Regions from separate parts of the Homo sapiens genome. Here region 1 is reported to be linked to region 2. The links are microRNA targets in miRTarBase. Many come from high-throughput screens and were not tested one by one. Region 2 holds a microRNA gene; the other region holds the end of a gene's coding sequence.

Evidence for each region. The annotated mature microRNA hsa-miR-4677-3p reads UCUGUGAGACCAAAGAACUACU and lies in region 2 at 1,292-1,313, shown strand. An mRNA with a match to its seed (bases 2 to 7 or 8) in the 3' UTR can be bound and repressed. Matches are read on the target gene's strand: a 7mer-m8 pairs with bases 2 to 8, a 7mer-A1 pairs with bases 2 to 7 and ends in A, and an 8mer does both.
Region 1: the mRNA of NR2F6 is a reported target of hsa-miR-4677-3p. The part of its 3' UTR that is shown has no 7-base or 8-base seed match.

What each region holds. Positions count from the first base shown.
Region 1 is chr19:17,229,944-17,232,943 of GRCh38, reverse strand. NR2F6 (nuclear receptor subfamily 2 group F member 6) reads left to right here. Exons shown (of 4, transcript NM_005234.4): 4 at 318-1,061. The coding sequence ends at 592. Among named protein-coding and RNA genes, the nearest start is that of OCEL1, 5.2 kb to the right of the region's middle.
Region 2 is chr1:243,344,934-243,348,184 of GRCh38, forward strand. It overlaps MIR4677 (microRNA 4677), which reads left to right and starts at 1,243; the gene lies at 1,243-1,322. The region is part of intron 12 of SDCCAG8 (SHH signaling and ciliogenesis regulator SDCCAG8); the gene reads left to right.

The DNA.
Region 1 (3,000 bases), not on the chromosome of region 2:
ACTCCTGACCTCAAGTGATCCACCTGCCTCAGCCTCCCAAAGTGCTGGGATTACAGGCGTGAGCTACTGTGCCCAGCCCCAGCTGATTTGTTTTTGCAGAGAAGGGATCATACTATGTTGCCCTGGCTGGTCTCAAATCCTGGCCTTAAATGATGCTTCTGCCTTGGCCTCCCAAAGTGCTGGGACTGTGGCCGTGAGCCATCATGCCCGGCCCCCTGTTCTTACCCACAGTGGCGAGTGGTGTCCCCTAGTCACCCCTGTGGGCTCTGTGTTCTCTAGCTGCCTCCCACCTGTCTGACTTGCCTTTGTCCCCCTAGACGCCTGTGGCCTCTCAGACCCGGCCCACGTTGAGAGCCTGCAGGAGAAGGCGCAGGTGGCCCTCACCGAGTATGTGCGGGCGCAGTACCCGTCCCAGCCCCAGCGCTTCGGGCGCCTGCTGCTGCGGCTCCCCGCCCTGCGCGCGGTCCCTGCCTCCCTCATCTCCCAGCTGTTCTTCATGCGCCTGGTGGGGAAGACGCCCATTGAGACACTGATCAGAGACATGCTGCTGTCGGGGAGTACCTTCAACTGGCCCTACGGCTCGGGCCAGTGACCATGACGGGGCCACGTGTGCTGTGGCCAGGCCTGCAGACAGACCTCAAGGGACAGGGAATGCTGAGGCCTCGAGGGGCCTCCCGGGGCCCAGGACTCTGGCTTCTCTCCTCAGACTTCTATTTTTTAAAGACTGTGAAATGTTTGTCTTTTCTGTTTTTTAAATGATCATGAAACCAAAAAGAGACTGATCATCCAGGCCTCAGCCTCATCCTCCCCAGGACCCCTGTCCAGGATGGAGGGTCCAATCCTAGGACAGCCTTGTTCCTCAGCACCCCTAGCATGAACTTGTGGGATGGTGGGGTTGGCTTCCCTGGCATGATGGACAAAGGCCTGGCGTCGGCCAGAGGGGCTGCTCCAGTGGGCAGGGGTAGCTAGCGTGTGCCAGGCAGATCCTCTGGACACGTAACCTATGTCAGACACTACATGATGACTCAAGGCCAATAATAAAGACATTTCCTACCTGCACAGCCTCCCTGGTCTTTATTTTTATTTTTTATTTTTGAGACGGAGTCCTACTTCGTCACCCAGGCTGGAGTGCAGTGGCGTGATCTTGGCTCACTGTAACCTCTGCCTCACAGGTTCAAGCGATTCTCCTGCCTCAGCCTCCCCAGTAGCTGGAACTACAGGCACCCACCACGATGCCCAGCTAATTTTATTTTTGGTAGAGATGGGGTTTCACCATGTTGACCAGGTTGGTCTCGAACTCCTGACCTCAGGTGATGCACCTGAGGCCTCCAAAAGTGGATTACAAGCGTGAGCCACTGTGCCTAGCCTCACTTACTTTCTTTTGGTCAACCTTAATCTTTTTTTTTTTTTTTTTTTTTTTTTTTGAGATGGAGTTTCGCTGTTTCACCTGGGCTGGAGTGCAGTGGTGCAATCTTGGCTCAGTGCAACCTCTGCCTCCCGAGTTGGAGCAATTCTCCTGCCTCAGCCTCCTGAGTAGTTGGGATTACAGGTGCGCACCACCACGTTCAGCTGATTTTTGTACCTTAACTAGAGGGGTTTTGCCATGTTGGCCAGGCTGGTCTCGAACTCCTGACAGGTGATCCACCTGCCTTGGCCTCCCAAAGTGGTGTGATTATAGGCATGAGCTGCCGGGCCCTTAATCTTGTTTGGGCTCCAATGTCCTTGGGAGAAACCTCTGGGGCCAGTCCTGTCACATGATGTAAGGCGAGCCAATCAGAGACCACCATTCCCTGGGCCACAGCAACTGGTTTATGGAGGCCCTGGGATGCCAAACTAGCCAGTGAGATTGCACGGTGGGATTTGGAACTGGGAGAATCTAATTAAAGCAGAGCCAAGGATGGAAGATCAATTTCCCAAGATGCCTTTGGAGCCCCAGATCAAGCCATACCTGAAACCCTTGGGTGTTTTAAGTTCTGTGAACTCAGTCTCCCCCCTTTTGTGCCTGAGTCAATCTGACTTCAGTTTTTTTTCTCACATGGAACTAAAAATCTGTTTCAGAGATTGACGTTTGGGAGTCAGGCACCTACAAGGCCAAGACTTTGAAATGTGGGCTTCACTGGGTTGATACGGAATCATGTGGGGTACCAGGGACTCTCCCGTCCCAGCCTCGGGAGTGTGTGGCACAGCTCTGTGGTGGGAAAGGCACCTGTGGAATTCAGCACCAGAGCTGTAGGGCAGAGAGAAAGGGCCCGAATGGTGGTGGGGGTGGCACCTCTCACTGATGTCCTTCTGTAGCCAGGCGTGGTGGCAGGAGCCTGTAATCCCAGCTACTCGGGAGACTCAGGCACGAGAATCACTTGAACCTGGAAGGCGGAGGTTGCAGTGAGCTGAGATCGCACCACTACACTCCACTCTGGGCAACAGAGGAAGACTGTCTGAAAAAAAAAAAAAAAAGAAAGATGCCCTCCTGAAAACAGCAAGGGAAGAAGTCAAGTCTGTCACGCTGCCTGCTGGGCCAGTGCTCAGCTCTTAAGCAGCCCCAGTTTGCCAAAATGCTCCCTAGTCTCCCCATGTCCATCTTGAAGAAAGCCTTGGAAGACGAGAGATTAGGCCCCTCCTGTGGAGTCAGTGAGGGTTTCTTGTGGGCACGTTCCCAGAAGGGAACTGAGGCAGGGGCGGGATGGAGAGGACACCAGGTTCTCGTTGAAGGCTGCACTGGGTTTTGCATTAGGTCAGGGTCTCTCCATGGTGTCCTGTGAGTGAGTGGGTCCATGTCTACTCCAGTCAAACTGGACAGCAAGGTCTCATTTATCCAATGCACAGGACATCTGAGGGTTGAGTGAGACCATGGTGTCTGTCCTGCTGTTTGGCCCCAGGCCAGAGATCTGGATGTCTGTCCAAGGCCTGACTGCTGAACTCCTACTTTTCCTACAAAACCCTACCCACATGGCCCTTCCTGCGGGAAGAGATCTTGAGCCTCCCTGGCTATTAAGACTCTGC
Region 2 (3,251 bases):
CAACATGGATAAAGTTTTTAGAGAGGCAGTTCTAATAGGCTGACTTTTGATTTTCTATTTTTATGTTACAGTACAGGACCTTGAAGGTTTTCATTCTTTGTATTCAATGAAAGCAGGTTGTTTATTCAATTAAAATAGTAAGACTGGGTTCTTAGTGTCAATATTTTAAAATAATTGTTTTAGAATTTAGAAGTAGGTCGCTCCAAATAAGTTTTTTTTCAAATATGTTTCTAGTTCGAGGTTTTTCATCATATTTTCCAACATATTTTCTCTTTTGAGCCAATGAAGTCTTTACAACAAATGATGCAAAGACAATTGGGAAAAGTATTGAAAATGAAAGTGATAATGAAGACTAGAACAAAAAGCTTTTCAAGTCATAACTGAAATCCTTAGTACTAAATTAAAATCCTGGCAACCAAAGTAAAATTCTGCTTTTGTACCACTATATTTGGTGTTGTAATGGGTTTTACATTTTCAGAAGACTTTTAATTATTAACATGTACAAATAATGAAACATTTTATTGCATCCAGTTGGGGGCGTGCCTGATAGTGGAATGGAAAATGCTTTCTGTCAGGGACTGAAGGCCTAGGTCTACTAAGTTTATCACAGATAACTTTTCTTTCCTGATATATTGTAATTTTTTAAAAAGGAATCAATATATTGGCATACTTTTGGCCTTTCGTATTATTCTACAGCATTCTGACAGCATAATATTTTGGACTAACTGCAAAAATACATCAGGAAAGAGTCTCAGTTATTTAAAATTCCATTATAATTTTCTAGAGGAAAAAAGATCAGGGACAATAGGAGTATAATATCACTTGTAAAGGAATAACTTGTTTAGAAGCATTTGCAATATTAGAAGTATTTGCAGTATTAAATCTCATTTTAATTAATCCGTGATGGTATGGAGGCTAAAGTTGCAGGATTTACAAGGAGCAGTTTTCATTTGTAAACGTTTTCTGATAATAGTGAAACAATAGTAGTTTTCATAATGACGTTTAGTGGTATGTTTTTAGATAGAGATGTGCCTTTTTAGGAGGTCACAGCTTTAGGAATAAAACCTCTGAACAGTTACAAGATGTTTGTGATGTGTTGTGAAGTGATGTGCTTGTTACCATTTTTTTTTCCCAGACGGAATGTGAGGAAATCTTATAGGTACTCTTTTTAACTGTTTTGTATTGAACAGACAGTTTCAGAAAAGAAGTCGTGGTGTCTCATTCCATGGATGATTTGGAGTAGCAAAGCAGCAATTGTTCTTTGGTCTTTCAGCCATGACCTGACCTTCTGTCTGTGAGACCAAAGAACTACTTTGCTTGGCCACCATCTGCACTCAAGAGAGAAATTTACATTTAACTTTTAAAAGCGGGGCATGTTGAGCATTTATCTGAAATACCTACAATAATATAAAGTAGATTAAATGTTTAAGTGTTGTGTATCTTACAATTCAGCATCACAAGCAGGCTATCTGTAGGTTTGCAAACAAGGTGTTCTTCATAATATAGTCATTTTATTCATATTTTAGTTCATCTGACCACTTGATACATTTTTAAAGTGGGTGGGAAACTGTGAGATTGGAATGTGTGAGAACAACAGCTTTTTTGATGTATACAAAATAGGGCAAATGGTTAACCACCAAAATAATTTTCCTTGTGACCTGAGCCTTGGCTCTGGCATAATTAGAAGGAAAGGTTAGGAGAGTAACAATGGCAGTCGCTTCCACCCACTTTCTTCTTTTCTTCTTTATATTGTGTCAGGAACCGATGGGCGGATTATCCTTCCCATCAACTCCTTTGTATCTCTTCAGCTTAGAGAATTCCTGTCAGCCTCAGAGGATGCTTCTTGCACCAGAAAAAGAGGCATTTGGTATGGAGGAGAATGTGAAATATGCTCTTTGATTTTTATGAGAAATTTTTTTAGGCAATGGTTATACACACACACACACTCGATCAGGGGAATTTAAAAACATGTATGAGGGTATAGGGAATATTGTAATGAGTCCTCACATTTCCATCACCTACACTCATCATTTTGCCCGTCCTCTTCCTCAGTCCTATTCCATCACTCATCATTTTGCCAGTCCCCTTCCTCAATCCTATTCCATCACTCATCATTTTGCCAGTCCTCCTCCTCAATCCTATTCCATCTATCTCACTTTTTTCTCTCTACTTCTGTCCTCATCGTCACCTTCATCTTCTTTGTCATGTTTTTTCTGCTCCACCTTCTCATCTTCATCTTCTTCTGTCTTCTTCCTCTACCTCTTTTTCTTCTTTTGCAGAAGTATTTTAAATGGATCTCAGACCTTATGTTATTTTACTCATAAATACCCATGTGGATCTATGAAGGATATTTTTACATACTATGTCATTATCATACCTAACAATGTTAACAATACTTCTTTAATATCAAATAACACCCAGCCTATATTCACATTTCTTTGTCTCAAAAATGTTGATTTTACAGTTGGTTTATTCAAATTAGGAGAACAAGTATGTTTTTGTATGTCCAATTTTCTGGTGTTACCCTTTTTAATAGGAAATAAACAGAACTCTTAGTAAAATTTCATCTTTCTTTGTTGTTGTCTGTTAAATTTTGTACATAATGTTTTGATTATGCTTTATTTTTATAAAATGCCTCATTGTCATTCTAAAGAGGTATAAATTAATCCTACAGCAAAGTATGTGAAGGAAATGGCTACCACGCAGCATTCCTGATAATCATATCCCAAAAGGAGCTTCCTCGCATCCGAAACCCCAAATTCAGCATTAATTTCACAGCCTTGTATTTAAGATTTGGACATGTTGCAGGAGGCCCTAACATGACAAGGATGAGCTGACCTGAAATGAGTGATGCAGAAATAGAGTTTTTTTGTCAACTTCCCTTTTGGTAAATTAATCTGAGAAGACGATTCTTTATAGCCGCTAACCTTTGATTAGGGCCCAGTGCAAAGTGAAAATACAGGACCCTTTTGTTCAGAAAGCAGGAAAGAAGTGATATTAAAAAGAACTAAAATATAAAACATTTTCCTTTCTTCTTCAGTCTCTCTCTCCTTGCCCCTCCTCCCTCACCAACCCAGGCTGGACATGCATTTTTTTTTTTTTTCTTTTTTTTTTTTTTTTAGGACGGAGTCTCCCTCTGTCGCCCAGGCTGGAGTGCAGTGGCGCGATCTCGGCTCACTGCAAGCTCCGCCTCCCGGGTTCATGCCATTCTCCCGCCTCAGCCTCCCGAGTAGCTGGGACCACAGGCGCCC